2 separate regions of the Homo sapiens genome follow, and region 2 is linked to region 1. Evidence: fine-mapped expression QTL. Tissue or cell type: uterus. Region 1 holds a variant in brackets; the other region holds the start of a gene. All regions are shown on one strand. Distances are between the middles of the regions.

Region 1 (10,438 bases):
AGTAAATAAATAAATAAATAAATAAATAAATAAATAAATAAATAAATGAAAGGAGTTAGGCACGTGTCCTCCAAGTGCTAAGTTTTATCTAAGGACCATAGACACTGCAGCTTCCATACGCTGCTGTAATCACCTTAGTTTGGCTTCTCATCCTTTGTGGCCAAAATGTATCCTGTGTGGTGATGAGACACGGGAAACTGGTGCCAGGTCCTCCATGGCGCTGCTGCTGTGTTCCCTGTCCTGTGTCCTTTCTGGAAACTAAACTTGGTGCTGACTAAGCCCGTGGTATCTGTGAGCTTGAATAAGTGGAACCTGAAATCCACTCTGGTGGTCTACAGCATGACAATAAACTAAAGGACTGCAGCACTTAGCCAAAATAATAATGAGCTACTTATTCAATCATGAGGGAACACAAGAATACAAATATGATCTTTTATAAACTAGTGATAGAATTTAGCTTTATTGTGCTATGGTTACTCAGTTAATGGGCAAACCCTCTGCAACACTTGTCAGTTACAGACTCCTCATAGCAAATAAGTGGCTGTAGGGAAGAAAGTCACAGAAGCACTTGCAAAAATTTTAATTAGAAAAATGTGTATAAAAAATAGGTTTAGCAGAGTTATGCTTTATGGGCCAAACAGGTTTCAGTTCAGTTTAATTTAACCAGGCTTCCTAAATTTGTTTTTTACCTCTTTCCATTCAACAGAGCATAAATATTAAATGTTATATAAAATATATTTCACTTGAATGCTTTAAATACAATGCAAAATTTGAGCACAAAACAATGCATTATGGCCTCATGAAGAAATTTACAAAACATTGTAATGAAAAATTAACAGCTTCAAGTAAGTACATAGTACTATACAAATGCTTGTCCAACAAATGCCATTTTAAACAGAGGAAGAAAACGCGACCAGTCTGGGCAACATGGTGAGACCCTGTCTTTACAAAAAATATGAAAATTATCCGGGTATGGTGGCAAGCACTTTTAGTGCCAGCTACTTGTGAGGCTGAAGTGGGAAGGTCACTTGAACCCGGGTGGCAGAGGCTACAGTGAGCCTAGATGGCCCACTGCACTCCAGCCTGGGCAACAGAGCGAGACCCTGTCAAGTAATGGATAACCCCACAAGACTGCCTTATAGCCTGATCACGGTACCTGGCAATTTGTAGAAAGCAACACTTATAACCCATTTTAGCATTCCTGATTGAGCTGTCTGTACTTTCACATGAGTTTTGAGCTTATTCATCATCTTGTTGATCTTTCTTTCCAGCCTGGCAGATCTGGCAAACTTGTCCATCATATTGACCGCGGATAACTCTTGCTTCATATCCTGGATCTCTGCTTTGGTCTGCGACTCCTGTTCTGCATCCTTGCGCTGCACCCTGGACATAAAAGAGAAGGACGGGAGTAGGATCTGAAGGACACTGCACCCAAACAGGAATCTGAGCACCAGCAGCCACGCCCAGTGGTTAGCCTTAGCCGTGCCCATGTTAGACGCTCCTGGTGGCGTAGGCACCGTTAGCTATGGTAGCTCCATGGGGATCATGTTGGCATCCACCTATATTGCAGTTCTGAAATGATAACATTTTAGAAATGATGGACAAAATGGATGCCAAGGTTTAAGAAGAAGTGTTTATAAAAGGGCAACACGAGGTCCTCCAGGTGTTGAAACTGTTTAATAACTTGCCTGTGGTAGGTGGATACACGAATCTACAAAGGTGATAAAATTGTATAGAACTTAGTACACACACACTTGCAAGCAGGGACAAATGAGTATAAGTAACACTGGAAAAATCTGAATAAAACTAGTGGATTGATAACGTAAATATCATGGTTATGGTATTACACTATAGCTTTGTAAAATGTTAACATGGGGATAACTAGGCAAAGTGTGTAAGGGATCTTGCTGTGTTATTTCTTACTACTGCATGTAAATCTACAATTACCTCAATAAAAACCTCAACTCAATAAAAAATGTCAGGAATCCATAGTTTCTTTATATCAATATTGTGTCATCATATCATATTTTTGTTGTTGTTGTTATTTTCTGTTTTTGTTTTTGTTTGAGACAGGGTCTCTTTCTGTTGCCCAGGCTGGAGTGCAATGGTGCAATCATGGCTCACTGCAGCTTCCATCTCCTGGGCTCAAGCGATTCTTTCACCTCGGCCTCCTGAATAGCTGGGACCACAGTGGTATGACACCATGCCTGGCTAATTTTTAAAACTTTTGTAGAGACAGGGTTTTGCTATGTTGCCCAGGCTCACCTCAAACTCCTGGGCTGAAGTGATCCTCCAGGCTTGGCCTCCCAAAGTGCTGAGATTACAGGTGTGAGCCACCATGTTTCATATAATATTTTAATTATTATATATTTGTTATGTAAGGTTTTTGTAGGGTATCAAATATTATAAAAATGAAGTCGATTTACTGATATGGAAACATGCTATATTGTAAAGTTAAAACAAAGGACCTTGTCAAGTAGCATGTATAATATAATCCCCAAAATACACTTGTCTTTGCAAATACATGTGCTAAGAGTTTTGAAAGGATAAAAAAGAAGCAGTTTACAGTAGTTACCTCTGGGGCATGGGACTACAGGAATAGGGAGTGAAGGACACTTATTTTTCACTTTATGTGTAATTCTTTCTTTTTTTTTTTTTTCTTTTTGAGACGGGTCTTACTCTGCTGCCCAGGCTGAAGTGCAGGGGCATGATCAGGGCTCACTGAAGACTCAATCTCCCTGGGCTCAGATGATCCTCCCGCCTCAGCCTCCCGAATAGCTAGGACTGCAGGAATGCACCACACCCAGCTAATTTTTTAATTTTTAGTAGGGATGGGATTTTGCCATGTTGCCCAGACTGGTCTTGAAATCCTGGGCTCAAGCTACCTGCCTTCCTCAGCCTCCCAAAGTACTGGGATTACAGGTGTGAGCCATGCACACAGCCCATTTTATATGTAATTCTGTAATGTTTGTATGCTATTTACCATGAGCATGTACTACCTTTATAATTAAAATTCTACAAAAAAAAATTCTAGCTTAATAGCAATGTAAAATTTTAATAAAATTTTGTAAAACATTGGGACATACTTGTAAATATGAGGGTAGAAAATGTCTGTAATAACTTCAGGCAATAAGGTAGCAACATGTTGTCACCTAAAGACCAATGTGTTCTTCCAAATTTGGCTGCTCTATAAATTCTATTAGTTTGAAAAAGCCAAAAAAGACTGAAAAAGGAGAAAAATAATTCTTTTTTAAAGTGCTTATGTTAAAAAAATGCCCAGTTCTAGTGCTCTTTCCATTTGTGATTTCCTCAAATCATAAACAATTATCATTTATTTAATGCCTATATTCATAGAACATATGCTAAGGTTATAAGTAAGCATATGATACCCCCCTGACATGAAGATGTTAATAACATAGCTACTGGGAAATAGGACATATGCATAAAAGATAAATAACTATACAATAGGCCAGGAGCGGTGGCTCATGTCTGTAATCCCAGCACTTTGGGAGGCAGAGGCAGGGGATCACCTGAGGTCAGGAGTTTGAGGCCAGCCTGATCAACATGGAGAAAACCCGTCTCTACTAAAAATACAAAAATTAGCCAGGCATGGTAGTGGGTGCCTATAATCCCAACTACTAGGGAGGCTGAGGCAGGAGAATCACTTGAACCCAGGAGGCGGATGTTGTAGTGAGCTGAGATCGTGCCACTGCACTCTAGCTTGGGTAACAAGAGCGAAACTTCGTCTTCAAAAATAATAATAATAGGTCGGGCGTGGTGGCTCACACCTGTAATCCCAGCACTTTGGGAGGCTGAGGCGGGCGGATCACAAGTTCAAGAGATCGAGACCATCCTGGCCAACATGGTGAAACCCCATCTCTACTAAAAATACAAAATTAGCTGGGCGTGGTGGTGTGTGCCTGTAGTCCCAGCTGCTTGGGAGGCTGGGGCAGGAGAATCACTTGAATCCAGGAGGTGGAGTTTGCAGTGAGCCAAAATCGTGTCACTGCACTCCAGCCTAGCAACAGAGCAAGACTCCGTCTCAAAAAATATATATAAAACAAAAATAATAATAATAATAACTATACAATACAGCATAAGTATTATGTGTATTATACAAGTACTACATATATATTATATAAGTAATATACAAGTATTATGTATATTATTTGGTTGCTATAGACAGTAAATTATCCTAGGATGAGGTAATAGCAAAAGTACAGGAAAATCCAATCATGCTTTTGGCAGAAGATAGAATAAATTTGGGATTTTATTTAAGATTGAGTAGACTGATTCAGCTGAAGAAAGGTTTATGTAGAGAAGAGACAGGAAATAAAGTTGGAAAGGAAGGATGGAGTCTTAATGTGAAAAGCATTGAACATCAGCCACCTGACAATCAGTCTATATTTAATATGAATAAAACTTGGTTCAAGATCCATTTAAGCTAGAATATCTAAATTTCAGACTATTGATTTGTTCTGTGTAGCTGAAACTCCTACCCTTTTAGTTGATTAGTATTAAGATTGTTTTGGACCTTATTTATATTGATTTGAAATGTTTATTTGGGAGTGGGCCCAATTCTCTTTAGAGATTTATTACCCAGCTGGGCGTGGTGGCTCATGCCTGTAATCCCAGCACTTTGGGAGGCCGAGGCAGGCAGATCACGAGGTCAGGAGTTTGAGACCAGCCTGGCCAACTTGGCGAAACCCCGTCTCTACTAAAAATACAAAAATCAGCCGGGCATGGTGGTGGGCTCCTGTAATCCCAGCTACTCGGGAAGCTGAGGCAGGAGAATTGCTTGATCCCAGGAGGCAGAGGTTGCAGTGAGCCAAGATTGTGCCATTGCACTCCAGCCTGGGTGACAAGAGCAAGGCTCCATCTCAAAAATAAATAAAAAACAAAACAAACAAACAAAAAACATTAGCTGTTGTTGTTGTTGTTGTTGTTTTGTAAAGAGATTTATTACCCCTTTCAATTTTGCACAGATGCTAGTCAGGTGAAGAAGAGAGGTGAAGGCGTTCTACGCAGATGGAACCCAGGATATATAAAGCCAGAGTCACAGGCAAGACTGTCTTCTGAGGAGGGAGAACGGCAGGAACACACATGAGTGAACGGCAGAAGGAAACCAGCTCAAAAGGCCAGTTATGGAAAAAATTGGAAATGTCATCAAAGTGGGGCCTGGGTGGGGGCAACTAATAGCTTGAAACAATTTTATTATAGAGACAATGGAGCCAGTAATATTTGCTTAAAATATTATTTGAATGGCTGAATAACATTCTATAAAACATCCCAATATGTGGAAGCTTCATAATGTATGTACTCAATCCTCTCTTTTAGAATATTTAGCTGATTTCCAGGTTGTTATTGTTTATTTATGTTTTATCTATTATAACCAGTGCTACAATGAAAATCTTTGCTAGGGTCCATGGTCACCATGTAGACCAGCCTGGTCAACATGGTGACGTAGAGGTTGCAATGAGCCAAGAATGCGCCATTGCACTCCAGCCTGGGCAAAAAGAGCAAAACTCT[G/C]TCTCAAAAAAAAAAGAAGAAATGCTGAAAGATTATTTTACATATAACCATAAAATTTATTCTAATTTATTTGTTTATTGAGACAGAGTCTCATCCTGTCGCAGAGGCTGGAGTGCAGTGGCAGCATCTCAGGTCATCGCAGCCTTCATCTCCTGGGTTCACGTGATTCTCCTGTCTCAGCCTTCCAAGTAGCTGGGATTATAGTCGGGTGCCACCAAGCCCGGATAATTTTGGTATTTTTAGTAGAGACGAGGTTTCGCCATGTTGGCCAGGCTGGTCTCCAACTCCTGACCTCAGGTGATTCACCTGCCTTGGTCTCCCAAAATGCTGGGATTACAGTCATGAGCCACCACACCCAGCCTTTTAAATTTTTAAATAACGATCAGTCTTAGGAATATCTTCCCTAATGCAAAAAGTATATAAATATTTAGAAGGGTTTTTATTTCAAAGCAAAGGGATGCAGATTTTATCCTGAAGCAATAGAAAGCCATCAGGGCTGTTTAAACGGGAGAGTTTTTGAAAAGAAAGTTACTCTGGCTGAATTTTGCTGGGTGTTCCAGGATAGGAAGAACTCTGGGATCATTATTAAGAAACTACAACAAAACACTGAAAGAGTGGCTGAAAGCCTCGACTAAAGCCAAGGATACAGAAAAAAAAAGAAGCAGGAGACTACCATATTAGAATTCACTGGGTGTGGTGAGTCATAGAACCTGAGAGATGTAGAGAGGTCTAGGATGACACTAAAGTTTCTAGCTTGAGTGATTTGGTCGATGGTAAAAATCTCCATCTAGGCTAGGAACGAAGAGAATGGAGCAGGTTTAGAGAATTTGTGTAGATGGACACATAGGTAGGATAGATGACAGAGAAGGGTTGCATTGTATTTTAAATCTCTCATATTTTAGGCACTGTCACTCAGGGTGAAGTGCAGGGGCACGATCTCAGCTCACTGCAGCCTTGATCTCACCAGTTCAAGTGATCCTCCCACCTCAGCCTCCCAAGTAGCTGGGACGACAGGTGTGTGCCACACGCCTGGCTAATTTTTTTTTTTTTTTTTTTTTTTTAGACGGAGTCTCACTCTGTCACCCAGGCTGCAGTGCAGTGGCGCGATCTCGGCTCACTGCAACCTCTGCTTCCTGGGTTCAAGCGATTTTCCTGCCTCAGCCTCCTGAGTAGCTGGGATTACAGGTGCTTGCCACTATGCCCGGCTAATTTTTGTTGCTGTTGTTGGCTGTTTGTTTGTTTGTTTGTTTGTTTGAGACAAAGTCTTGCACTGTCGCCTGGGCTGGAGTGCAATGGCGAGATCTCGGCTCACTGCAACCTCCACCTCCCAGGTTCAAGTTATTCTCCCGCCTCAGCCTCCTGAGTAGCTGAGATTACAGGCTCCTGCCACCACGCCCAGCTAACTTTTTGTATTTTTAGTAGAGACCTTGTGATCTGTCTGCCTCGGCCTCCCGAAGTGCTGAGATTACAGGAGTGAGCCATTGTGCCTGGCCCAATTTTTGTATTTTTAGTAGACGGGGTTTCACCATATTGGCCAGGCTGATCTCGAACTCCTGACCTTGTGATCTGTGCGCCTTGGCCTCCCAAAGTGCTGAGATTACAGGTGCGAGCCACTGTGCCCAGTCAATTTTTGTATTTTTTGGAGAGATGAGGTTTTATCGTGTTGCCCAGGCTAGTCTTGAACTCCTGGCCTCAAGCAATTCACCTGCCTCAGCCTCCAAAGTACTGGGATTACAGATGTAAGCCACTGTGTCCGTCCCATTAGAGGATTTTAGGGAGAGATATGAAATGATTGGGTTTATATTTAGAGATAATTTTGAATGACTTGCTAAGAATAGGTGTTAGAGTTATAGGTAACTATTACAATAATCCAAGAAAGAGGGGACTGGTGGCTTGGACTTTTCTAAGCAGCGGTGTATGACTGGGAAATAGGTTCTGGGCATACTTTGAAGACTTGGTCAACAGAATTTTCTAATGGACTGGATGTGTGTATGAGAGAGAGTAGTCAAGGATGACTCCAAAGTTTTGAGGTGAGCACCTGGAAGGATACAGTTGCTATTTACTGGGATGGAGAAGGCTGCTAGAGGAGTAGTACATAGCTTTATGCATGCTTAGTCTGAGATGCTTCCCAGATTCCCAGATATCTAGGTGGAGATGGAGAGCAGTCAGTTGGCAAAAGGGGAAGCTGCAGGGCCAGACATCTGATTTGGGAGTTGTCAGCTATAGATGCTATTTAAAATCATGGGAATGGCTGGGCGCGGTGGCTCACGCCTGTAATCCGAGCACTTTGGGAGGCCGAGGTGGGCGGATCACCTGAGGTTGGGAGTTCGAGACCAGCCTGACCAACATGGAGAAACCCTGTCTCTACTAAAAATACAAAATTAGCCAAGCATGGTGGCACATGCCTGCAATCCCAGCTACTAGGGAGGCTGAGGCAGGAGAATAGCTTGAACCTGGGAGGCGGAGGTTGCGGTGAGCTGAGATCGCGCCATTGCACTCCAGCCTGGGCAATAAAAACAAACTCCGTCTCAAAAAACAAAACAAAACAGACAAACAAACAAACAAAAAAATCATGGGAATATGTGGGATTAGCTGTGGAGTGAGCATAGACAGAGAAAAGGGGTCCAAGGGCTGGGATTATGGATTTTAAAAAAGCAGCCCATTAGGCAGAAGGAAAACCAAGACAGTGTGTGGACTCCTGGAAGTCAAGTGAAGAAATTTATGTCAAATAAATATGTTTTGAAGATAAGTCAGACAAGAACTGACCAAAATTGACCAAAGCAACAAAGATGGAACTGGAGGTCATTATGTTAAGTGAAACAAGCCAGACACAGAAAGACAAGTATTGCATGTTCCCACCCATAAGTGGGTGCTTAAAAATGTGTATACATAAATGTAGAGAGTAGAATGGTAGACAATGGAGATTTTGAAGGGTGAGGGGGTGGGAGGGGGCTGGAGGATGAGAAGTTATTTAATGGGTACAATGTACGTTATTCGGGTGATGGATACCCTAACAGTCCTGAATTGACCATTACGCAATGTTTGCATGTAACAAAATTGCATGTGTACCCTCATACATTTATCCAAATAAAAAAAAAATCCAAAACAAAATAGACCAAAGTATATGACAACATGGATGTGAGTGGCAACACTGACAAGAATAGTTTTGGTGAAATGGTAAGGAGGGAACCTGAAGGTAGTGGATTTAAGGCAGAAATAGCAAGTACAGACTACATTTCAGAAAAAGTTTTCTATACGTGGAGCAGAAGCATGGAATTACAGAGGGACAGGGATGTATGCTTATGGGAACGAGCCAGTAGAGAGGGAAAATAGATGATACAGGGGAAAGTGGGAGCCAGAGGGAGAGAGAGGAGGGAGAGTACTTATAAGAATGATGTTCACAAGTAAATTTGAGGAGATCTGATCAAGTGCCCAAGTGGAGGGCTTGGCCTCTCATAAGAGCATGCACAATTCATTCATGGTAAGAAGATAAAAGGCATCATTCGGCATATGGGCAGATGAATATAATAATGGTGAAGAAACTATGTGGAAGCTCTCTTTTCACTTCCTCTGTTTTCTTGGTGAAATAACAAGGTCATCAGTTGAGAATGAAGAATCCAGGCCAGGAGTGGTGGCTCACACCTATAATCCTAGCACTTTGGGAGGCTGAGGCAGGTTGACTGCTTGAGGTCAGGAGTTCAAGACCAGCCTGGCCAACATGGTGAAACCCCGTCTCTACTAAAAATACAAAAATTAGCCAGCCATGGTCACGTGCACCTGGGATCTCAGCTACTCCAGAGGCTGAGGCATGAGAATTACTTGAACCCAGGAGGTGGAGGCTGCAGTGAGTCTAGATTGCTCCACTGCACTTCAGTCTGGGCAAGAGTGAGACCCTGTCTCAAAAAAAAAAAAAAAAAAAAAATTCAGGGGCAGCACTGGAAGTTTGAGGAGAGAGTTGTTAATGTGTTAATGATTGTCTTGAAAAGTGGGAGAATCAATTTATTAAGGAAATATGAAGGATTACCACACGCCAACAAGGGCCCACTTGAAATTAGTGTCCAGCAACACTGAGACCTCTCAGCATTTTTCTCCAGGTGTATATTGCATGGGTGCAGGCTTAGAGTAGATGGAAAAATGGATATAATTGAGATTTCATTTTGCCAGGTGAGTATGGCAGAGGGAGAAAGAGGCAAGTTGAAGTACATACAAGGCAGTGGTTGTAATAATATAATAGTGGTTCATGGAATCCAAATTGAGTTAGGAGGAGGATGGGGACGTGCAATGGAGTAGGGATAGTGTGAAGATAGTAGGGCTGCAGAGTTGGAGGTTTTAGTGGGATTACAGAATTATTGGAGATAGGGTAGTATAGGAAGTCAGTTGGAAAGAAAGTAAGTGATGACCGGAGAATGGAATGCTTGATAGTGTGGTCATAGAGAGGGGACAAATATCAATAATAAAAAACCCTAGGGTATGAACATGGGAGTAGACAGTGTATATCTGGGGTGGGGTGGAGGTCAAGTCATTGCAGGTTAACAGGGGCATTGTCTAATTGTCTATGTGGATTTATTTTATTTTATTTTATTTTTAAGATGGAGTCTCATGCTCTCACCCAGGCTGGAGTGCAGCAGCATAATCTTGGCTCACTGCAACCTCCACCTCCCAGGCCCAAGCCATTCTCCAGCCTCAGCCTCTCGAGTAGCTAAGATTACAGGCATGCATCACCATGCCAGGCTAATTTTTTTATTTTTAGTTGAGACAGGGTTTTACCATGTTGGTTGGGCTGGTCTCGAACTCCTGACATCAAATCATTCACCTGCCTTGGCCTCCCAAAGTGCTGAGATTGCAGGTGTGAGCCATTGCACCCGACCTATGTCGATTTTTAAAAAATTAACAAGAATTATGACAAGGA
Region 2 (10,438 bases), 60 kb before region 1:
TAAATTTTAAAAACAAAAGCACAGATAGCATGACAATAACATTAAATATTAATTAAATGAAATAAATAAGGGAAGGAAGGGAGAGAGAGAAGGAGAGGGAGGGAATAGGGGAGGAAATGGCAGGAGAAGGAAGAAAGGAGAGGAGAAATCCAAGGAAGAAACAAAAAAGATAAATGAGCATTGAAAGTAATTTGAGCTCCCTAGTCATCAATTGGAAGGGAAAAAAATTACTGGATTACACAGTACTAATAATCTGTGCAGTTCTCAAAGTTTGGTCCAGAGACTCCTGGAGGTCTCCAAGACCTTTACAGGTATCTGTGAGGTCAAAACTATTTTCATGATGCTGTCTTTTCATCCTCACTCCTTCAGGGGTGCAGAATGAAGTTTCCCAGGATTATGTATATGCAATATTGTAAGATTCAATTGCAATCTGAATGTAGAAGAAACAAATATGAGAATCCAGTTGTCTTCCATTAAGCCAAATCATAAATACTTTTTACATTTCTGCTTTAACTTCTAATATGAAAAACATCAATAGACGTAAGACCCTATATACACAAGTTATTTGGGGTCAATAATTTTCTAAGTGTTAAAGAGTCCCGAGACCAAATAGTGTGAGAACTGCTGATCTATACAGAAGACGGATGCCAGTTCTTCAAGAGAAAGAAATTGTTTCCCGGTCTCACACTTTCAAAGATTATGTTACAAAGGACTTTGTCTAATACTTGATCTTAGCCAAAAGGCTGAAAAGTGATGATTTTGTGTAACAAATATGAATAGTAGGTAACAGATAGGGTTACCAGATAAAATACTGTGCAATATTTGGGATCCTAATGCTAAAAAAGGTATGCATTGTTTATTTGAAATTCAAATTTAACTGAGTAGCCTGTTTTTTGTTTTGTTTTTGCTAAATCTGGCAACACAGCAAGATGTTTGTGAAACGCCTTTAAAAGAAAGAGACAGAGGAAGGGAATTTCACCAAACTGTGAAAAATGGTAAAACTTACAATAAATTCTTGGCTTTCCATTATTTCTTCTGAAGTTATAAACCAGCTGGGTCCAGAAAATAGGAAATATTCAACTATTTATACCACCTAAAATTAAAAATGACATAAAATTTCAACCCTGATTTTTAAAAAATATCAAATATAATTTTTCTCAATAAACTCCCAACCACAGACATGAATCAAGGAGTTCCAAGATTACCTAACTACCAAGGGAAACAGAGGTGTAATTATCTATCACTGAGGACACAGTAAAAGTGATACCATGCTGTGAAACAAGCATTTTTTCATAAGTAAAGAAAAAACTAAGTAAAATACATAAATTAACTTGTAGTCTGCATTTTTCCAGATGCATAATATGTATCAGAAAACACGAATTTGTCCTCCACATGTTTGGTTCCCTATAGCGCAAATTCAATTTTTAAAGTTTTCTGAATTGCTACGGTTACCACAAGATGGCCCCCTTGTGTTTTAAATTTTTCCTTTCACTTCTTAGCATCAATATACCACAGTATCTAGGACCAATTACATAGTACCTCTACAAGGAAAAATCTTTCCAACACTGTTGCAACAGTTACTGTAGTTGTTATGCTATTGGATAAAACTGTTTTTGTGGGCAAATTTGGAAATCTAAAATCACTGATGGTGATCCCTGAAGAAGTAAACAGAAATGCCAAAGAAACATACTTTCTTTTTTTTCCCCTAAGGTGGTTCTCAAGATGTGACCCCTGGACCAACAGTATCATCTGGGAACTAGTAAGAAATGACCTATTAAGTCAGAAAGTCTGGGGTTGGGGGCCCAGCAGTCTGTGTTTTAAGAAGCCCTCCAAGTGATGCTGATGGACACTCAAGTTTGAGAATACAGATCTAAAAGACCTAGAAGGATTCAATAAAGCTGTAATTGTGATTTCAGTTCCTCTTTTAGACATATAAAATATGCCACTTACATATTATTTATAAGTTACATATATTTATTCAGTACTTACTATTGTGCCAGATATTATGCTAAAGTATTTAAATGGAAACTCTATCCTCCATCTGAAGGAATTTCAGTATGGCGGGGTGATAAACAGTAATTTTAATAAAATAAGGCAGGAATAAGCACAGCAGGGGCACCCAGCTTGGTGTGGATCATCAAACAAGGCTTCTTCAAGGAAGTAAAGTCTAAGCTGTAAGCTGAAATAACCCTTAGTCAAGGGAAGGCCAGTGAAGGTCTTCCCAAACAAGAATTGCAGGCCTGTGATCCCAGCACTTTGGGAGGCCGAGACAGGTGGATCACCTGAGGTCAGGAGTTCGAGACCAGCCTGGCCAACATGGTGAAACCCCTGTCTCTACTAAAAATACAAAAATTAGCCAGGTGTGGTGGTGCGTGCCTATAATCCCAGCTACTTGGGAGGCTGAGGCAGGAGAATCACTTGAACCCAGGAGGCAGAGGCTGCAGTGAGCCGAGATCACGCCACTGCACTCCAGCCTGGGCGACAAGAGCAAAACTGTCTCAAAAAAAAAAAATAAAAGGGCGAGGCGGGGGCGGTGAAGTGCAAGAAAGTGACTGGCATCTTCCCTTGACTAATCAAGGTGATCTGGAGAAAGAATAGGTAAGGGGTATGCAAATGAGATATGCATACTTGCTTCGTGACACAGGTCACAGGACAGAAACCAAACCTACAGAAGGACTGCCTTTCAGAAATATAACTCCTGGCCGGGTGTGGTGACTCACGCCTGTAATCCCAGCACTCTGGGAGGCCATGGCGGGTGGATCATGAGGTCAGGCGCTCGAGACCAGCCTGACCAACATGGTGAAACCCCGTCTCTACTAAAAATACAAAAATTAGCTGGGCATGGTGGCACAGGCCTGTAGTCCCAGCTACTCAGGAGGCTGAGGCAGGAGAATTGCTTGAACCCGGGAGGCGGAGGTTGCAGTGAGCAGAGATCACGCCACTGCACTCCAGCCTGGGCGACAGAGCGAGACTCCATCTCAAAAAAAAAAAAAAAAAAGAAATACAACTTCCACATCCTATCTCCCTCCCCTCCGGCGTACATAAATTGCTGATGCCTAAGAATGCCAAGAAGATAAAAGAGAGATCGAGAAAAACACTCCTGGGCTAGATATGCTGTATACATAGATGAGAATACATGGTACAGACACAGTGCTGGGCATGTGGCAATTATTAATATCAGATCTGTTTAATAGCTACCATTTATTCAGTGCTACCATATGCTAGAAACTGTTAAATGCTTTATTTGGAGGTTTTGTTTCTGTTGGCTTTTTAACTTTTCTTTTTCTTTTACAGAGACAGGGTCTCACTCTGTCACCTAGGCTGGAGTGCAGTGTTGCAATCATAGCTCGCTGTGGCCTCAAACTCCTGGGCTCAAGCAATCCTTCCAGCCTCCCAAAGTGCTATATTATAAACATTATATACATTATATTGTTAATTATATACATTATAATTATTATGTAATTATATAATATATAACTATATTACTGTATTATGTAATATACAATTATATGATTATCGTGTGTAATTATATATATTTATTGATTACATACTATGTATCAGGCAGGAATTGGACGAGATACTTTACATACAGTATTTATCAGTCTCATAATCCTGAAGAATAAGCATTATTACAATTTACAGATTAGGAACCCAGTATTTACTAGTTTAGGATAACTTATATGCTATTTCACAATTGCAAGATAAATTCTCCATTATTTTCCTAAATTGAGATATTACTTCTGGAATGTACAGTTTAAAAAGAACTAAGAAGACTGAAACTCTTAAAGGATGGTTAAATTCGATTATAGGAGAAAACCTAAAAAAAAAAAGCTAACTGGATCTTTTAAAATTTAGAAGAGCTCTAATACTTATTCATTGAAAGTCAACACCCTTTCTTATCTTAGTATTAATCAGAAAAAATTATTTTAGACAACAGCATCATATATATTTAAGTGAGATGCAAAGAGTTTTTTCCAAGTGTTCATCTGTCCACGTCTACCAGACAATTCACCTGTTGACCGACTTCTAATAGGTGAAAGATTAATCTCCAAATAAGTTTTTAAAGACCCCAGATGCTCTGTGATAATTATATACATACATACATACACACAGATATACGTACATACACACATATACATACATATACATTGTGCTACTATATGTACGGACGCAATATATATACATAAAACTCGGTGTTCTCAGTAAAGTATGAGCCATTATTCATTTAAATACTAGATATTTTTCCTTTTTTTTTAAACAAGGAGTATTTTTTGAACCTAAACCTGAACCTCTAAATAGTTCGGATAACAAAGTTTTGGAATCATGAACTCAACATTGTTAACAAACCATCCAGTCCAAATAAACAAAGGAAACCCACATCTCATTTGCCAAGATTCTAAGAACCATAATCCTGTCACCAAATGACAATGGAGACTTGATCCTTTCTCAGTCCTAAATACAAACAGCAAAGCCCTCTTTGGTCCTCATACCTACTCGAAATTGCAAAGCAAGGCCTGGGAAAAACGGTGAAGAGGCACCACTTACTACAAGCAGTCCGAGTAGCTGTGACTGCGACCACCCCAATCCTGGTTCCAAACAGCATCCTTCCCGGTTCTCTTCTTAAGGAGCAGAGTCTTTCGTCCCTTCGCCCCAAATCGCTCAAGTCATTCCTAGGAAATCCCGAGAAACACTTCACCTCACCTGTCAAATTGCACAAAATCCACTTTCGAATTTCTCCCGCGAAACAACGTGACGTCATTAACGCGGGACCTCACCAGATGAGGACCCAAAACTTGGCCCGCCCACCTCCGCCTAAGCCAAAAACCGCCGCTTTCAAATCGCCAATCAAATTCTTCCTTGGCTTCGAGTCTCTCAGCCGGCCGCGCTCTCCGATGCCCAGCCCTCCTGGAACCACCTCGCCTGTGACGTAGGTGGAGCGCGCACTGCCTCCGGGCCCGTCTTTCTCAATTGGGACCGGAAAACGTTGTCGCTCATCCTATGACGCGAAAGTAACCGAGACTATCAGGATCCGGAGACGGAAATGTCCGAAGGCCGCAGTACTTGACCCTGTATTTTGGGAGTCGAACGGAGTAAGTTACAAGCGGCCTATAGGGTCGCACAGCTTGGGCGAAGTCTAATTAACTCTCCGTCCTTTTTCTTGCGGTCCACTCTATCATCTATCGTCCTTCTTACCCCGCCCCCCCGTCCTGCACACCCATCAGTTCCTTGGCCTAGTTATCTATGCGCACGCGCAAAAGTCTTCGGCAGCACTTGTAGTTCCCGTTTTCAGACAGTAAGGGCGCATAGGGGCCCGGCGTGGGGAGGTTTGGGGCGCGCCCGGCCTATGACGGCGTCCTTGCGGAAGTACGGGTGCCGAGAGAAGCAGTAGTCAATAAAGAGAGTGCCGTATTTCGCAGATTGGAGCTGAGCTGTGGCTGCCAGAAGATAGCGAACGTGAGGATTTATATTCTAAAATTATCATCTTCTTTTGCAGGACTCTGCCATCGTCCTCAAAGAGTAAAAAATCCAGTTACGGAAGGGAACTAACACTTGCTAGATATGGTGTGCAGAGTGCGTTTGCAAAGAAACTTAAGAGAAAACAAATGATAGGACACAGGGTGGTGGAAGATCTCAAAGAGTAAGATGCCATTTAACCTGGGCCTTGAAAATTTAATAAGGAAATTTAGACGAGAAGATTCAGACAAAGCAGAACACACAGGCCACTACGTGTTGAGGGACTTGAGTTGTAAGCAGTGACCAGAACAATGATTCTTAACCTGTTGTGGCACACTTCTTTTGAAAACTTAATTATATGGATTAGCTTCTCAGGAAAACGTGCATGTACCTATTAAAACATTTTGCGAGGCTGGGCACGGTGGCTCACGCCTGTAATCCCAGCACTTTGGGAGGCCGACGCGGGAGGATCACTTGAGGTCAGGAGTTCGAGACCAGCCTGGCCAATATGGCAAAATCTCGTCTCTACTAAAAACACAAAAATTAGCGGGGAGTGGTGGTGCACACCTGTAGTCCCAGCTACTCAAGAGGCTTGGTTGGGAGAATCGCTTGAACTCGGGAAGCAGAGATTACAGTGAGCCGGGATCGCGCCACTGCACTGCAGCCTGGGCCACTGAGAGAGGCTGCGTCTCCAAACAAACATTTTTCATATAATTTCCTCAGGAGAAATTACGAAATACTTTTAAATAGCAAACACACACAAATGACTTGGTGTCTTGTCTGACTCACTCTTCCAAGTTATCTATGTCTTTCGTGGTCTTTGAACTATTTTTCAACCCTGTAACTCGCTACAGCAACATGGAAATTAGGTTTGTCCAGTAAAGATGCAATTAATTATTGTCCTGAGCAGTATTTATTAATATTCATTTCAACGTTCCTGATTGCCTGTGTACCTGCTTTTTAAATTCTCCTTTGAACTGGTTTTTAGCACTTAACTGGTTCCCTTATTTACAGTCAAGCACCACATACCGACAGACCGCATGTATGACAGTGGTCCCATAAGATTATAGGTGAGTAATAGGCAATAGTACCTAGGTTTGTGTGAATACATCATAGAATAACTACATACTCAATGATGTACTTACTCACCTGACTGTGCATTTCTCAGAATGTGTCCTTGTCGTTAAGCAACCCATGACTGTGCTTAAATCTTTACCGTGTATTCATTTTATATTTGTACAAGAGTCTTGATTTTACCTTATCTTTAAAATGTATCATTTACAATTTAATGGAGCCCACTAGAATTCTTGTCCAGCCAAAGTTGCATGGACTTCAGATTAAGAATTCCTGAGTCAGAACATAGAGTCCGTGGTGATAAATTGCGGGAAATTCTACCAAAAGGTAGACAATGTGGGATCAAACATACCTGGGACAACTTACTTAGCTAGCTTTGGCCAAGTCACTTAAACCTTTTTGAGTTTTTGTGTTAAGATGGAAGAAACTGCTACCTAGTGGGATTGTGAGGATTTACAAAAGTGTATATAAAGTTACTGGTATTGTTACCCAATAACTTTTATTCTTCATTTAAAGCCAGTTAAATGTTACTTTTTTTTTTTTTTTTTTTGAGACGGAGTCTTGCCCTGCCGCCCAGGTTGGAGTGCAGTGGCACGATCTCGGCTCGCTGCAAGCTCCGCCTCCCGGATTCACACCTTTCTCCTGCCTCAGCCTCCCAAGTAGCTGAGACTACAGGCGCCTGCCACCATGCCCGGCTAATTTTTTTCTTTTCTTTTTTCTTTTTTTGTATTTTTAGTAGAGACGTGGTCTCACCTTGTTAGCCAGGATGGTCTCCATCTCCTGACCTCGTGATCCGCCCGCCTTGGCCTCCCAAAGTGCTGGGATTACAAGCGTGAGCCACCGCGCCTGGCCAAGTGTTACTTTTTTTTTTTAAAACAGTGTTTTCATAAACTGCATATTATGTTACGGGAAGGTGCTAAGGAATTTCTAATGTTGCAAGTTTTGACAGAAGCATCACAAAACCAGGTCTGTGTTTTAGATGGGTTATACATAGGCTCCTGTTGAGAATGGGTGACTTACAGAACAGTTTATAAACTATTGGCATATTCTAGTGACAGTTGTAGCAGTAGTTGTAGAAAACACTGGATGGAGATGAGAGCCATTTCAAAAGTCAAACTGATAGGATTTAACAAGAGATTGGATAGAATAATTGGATAGAATTATTGATAATTGGATAATTATCAATAATTTATAATTATAGATTATCAATTATAGAATTATAATTATCAATTATAGAATAATTGATAATTATAGCCTACGTTTGTGTTTGTTCGTTTTTGAGATGGAGACTGAATCTGTCTCCCAGACTGGAGTGCAGTGGTACGATCTCGAATCACTGCAACCTCTGCCTCCTGGGTTCAAGCGATTCTCCTGCCTCAGCCTCCCGAGTAGCTGGCATTACAGGCATGGGCCACCACACCCAGATAATTTTGTTATTTTTAGTAGAGACTGGGTTTCACTTTGTTGGCCAGGCTGGTCTTGAACTTCTGACCTCAAGTGATACACCTGGCTCGGCCTCCCAAAGTGCTGGGATTATAGGCGTGAACCACTGCACCTGGCCTATTTGTATTTTATTTACATCCCACAACCTTACAAAGAATTTGAAATGCTTAACACTTTACAGGTACTTTTAAATTTGTTTTTTTATTCAACAGATACTTAGGTACTGATGAAGTTAAAGTTCCTGCCTTCATAGTGTCTACATTCTGGTGGGATAGGTAGACAATAAAATTAAAATTCCAGGCCGGCCATGGTAGCTCACACCTGTAATCTCAGCACTTTGAGAGGCCCAAATGGGCAGATCACTTGAGGTCAGGAGTTTGAGACCAGCCTGGCCAAAATGATGAAACCGCATCTCTACTGAAAACAAAAATTAGCAGGGTGTGGTGACAGCTGCCTGTAATCCCAGCTACTTAGGAGGCTGAGGCAGGAGAATCACTTGAACCTGTGAGGCAGAAGTTGTAGTGAGCCAAGATTGTGCCACTGCAGTCCAGGCTGCACAACAGACTCCATCTCAATAAATAATTAAAAATAAAAAATAAAGTTATAATTCCAGGTAGTGACAACAAGATACAAGAATAAAAAATAGTGACTGAGGCAGTGGACGGAGTTAAGGTCAGCAGGGAGGGAATATTTTAGATTGAGCGGAAAGAGGTAAGTCTCTCTAAGAAGTGACATTTGCAGAGACCTAAGTGAACAAGGAAGTAATTCATACAGATACGGTAAGGAAGGTAAAGGGAGCAACAAGGGCAAAGGCCCTGAAGTGGGAATGGCTTTAGCATGTTTAAAGAACGAAAAGATGGTTGTTATGTTTGGACTGAGCCTGTTGGCAAGAATTGTGATAGATGAAATTAGAGAGATCCCCAGGCCAGATTATTTAAGATCCAGTCAACCACAGTAAGGTTTTTGGACTTTATTTTGAGTGTGATAAGAAACCTCTGAGCTGGGCGCGGTGGCTCACACCTGTAATCCTAGCACTTCGGGAGGCCAAGGCAGGCAGATCACCTGAGGTCAGGTGGCCAACATGATGAAACCCCGTCTCTACTAAAAATACAAAAAAAAATTAGCCAGGCGTGGTGGCACATGCCTATAGTCCCAGCTACTTGGGAGTTAAGGCAGGAGAATCTCTTGAACCCAGAGGGGGAGGTTGCAGTGAGCCGAGATCGCGCCACTGCACTCCAGCCTGGGTGACAGAGTGAGACTCCGTCTCAGGGAAAAAAAAAAAAAGAAACCTTTGGAGGAGTTTGTGTAAGGAATTGGCATGATCTGATTTACATATTTAAATGGTAATTCTATCTGGAGAATCGATTATAAGGGAAGAAGATTAGAAGCAGGCAGACTAGTAATAAAGTTCTTGTAGTTGTTCAGACAACGCAGTAGTAGCTTGGACCAGGTGCTTATGATGGAGGAAATGAGAATTATTCATATTTGGGATATATTTTAAAGTTAGAGCTAACAGAAATACTGATGAGTTGACCATGAGGTGTAAGGAAAAGGGAAATTAAGAATGATTTTAAGGCTTTTGCCTTTTCAGCAATTTTGTAATTGGTGTTTCTGAGATAGGGAAAATTGGTGGGAGGGGATTGTTAGCACTAGAGAGTCCTATTTTCACCATGTTAATTTTGAGATATCCTTTAGATAAACTAGTGGAGGTGTCAGGTGGACAGTTGAATATTGGAATGGGGAGCTAATGGGAGAAGATAGATTTGTAAAGCATCAGCATAAAGCCAATGAGCTTAAAGCCAGGATCCTCAGAAAGAATGAGTGTGTAAATGAGAAGGAAGCCCAGGACTGAGTCCAATTTAGGCATCATGTAAAGGTGTAGGGCACAGTGGGAGAGGTAGGGTGAAAGGAAATTGAGAAACTGAGATTGCAAAAGGGAATTGAAAAGGAAGAAGACTCGTTTGGAAGCTATATGAAGAAAATATTTTCAAGGAGGGAGTTACCAACTGCATTTGCTGCTGAGAGGTCAAGTAGACAGTGGAGCACATTGAGGAGCTTGTTTGCAGTTTCTCTAGAATGGTGATGAGGAAAACCTGACAGGATGGGTTGAAGTAAGAGCATGAGGTGAAGAACATGGTTGTGTGGTACTCAATGACACCTCATTGTTTTTCTATTATTAATTCTGACCTATAGTTGTGTTTTATGTCTTAAGCTAGCATCACCTAAATATATCATTACTTGTAAAATTTCAAAATTGGTACTTGATTGATCTACTGAAACCTAAAATGCCAAAATGTACTTCTGTTGAGTTTGATGAGAATGCATGTTTAGTTGGAGATTTGAGGTGAAATGCATTAAGGGCTTTGTACCCTCTTACTGGATATCACTTTGAAACACATTATCTATTTCTGTTACTATCAGCAGCATCACTGTAGCAGTTAGAGATTCTAACCAGCAGTCAGACTCA

What was found. PIP is the estimated chance that this variant, and not a neighbour inherited with it, causes the effect.
Region 2: ZGRF1 starts here. The variant in region 1 is fine-mapped to the expression of ZGRF1 in uterus (GTEx, PIP 0.96).

The regions. Positions count from the first base shown.
Region 1 is chr4:112,692,303-112,702,740 of GRCh38, forward strand. It overlaps the pseudogene GET1P1. Among named protein-coding and RNA genes, the nearest start is that of MIR302CHG, 47 kb to the left of the region's middle. The variant G/C (reference allele first, on the strand shown) is at 5,530.
Region 2 is chr4:112,632,150-112,642,587 of GRCh38, forward strand. It overlaps ZGRF1 (zinc finger GRF-type containing 1), which reads right to left and starts at 4,760. Exons shown (of 28, transcript NM_018392.5): 1 at 4,702-4,760; 2 at 1,007-1,093. The coding sequence starts at 1,027. It overlaps LARP7 (La ribonucleoprotein 7, transcriptional regulator), which reads left to right and starts at 4,994. Exons shown (of 13, transcript NM_016648.4): 1 at 4,994-5,090. RefSeq lists enhancers at 4,557-4,776, 5,347-5,396, 5,437-5,546.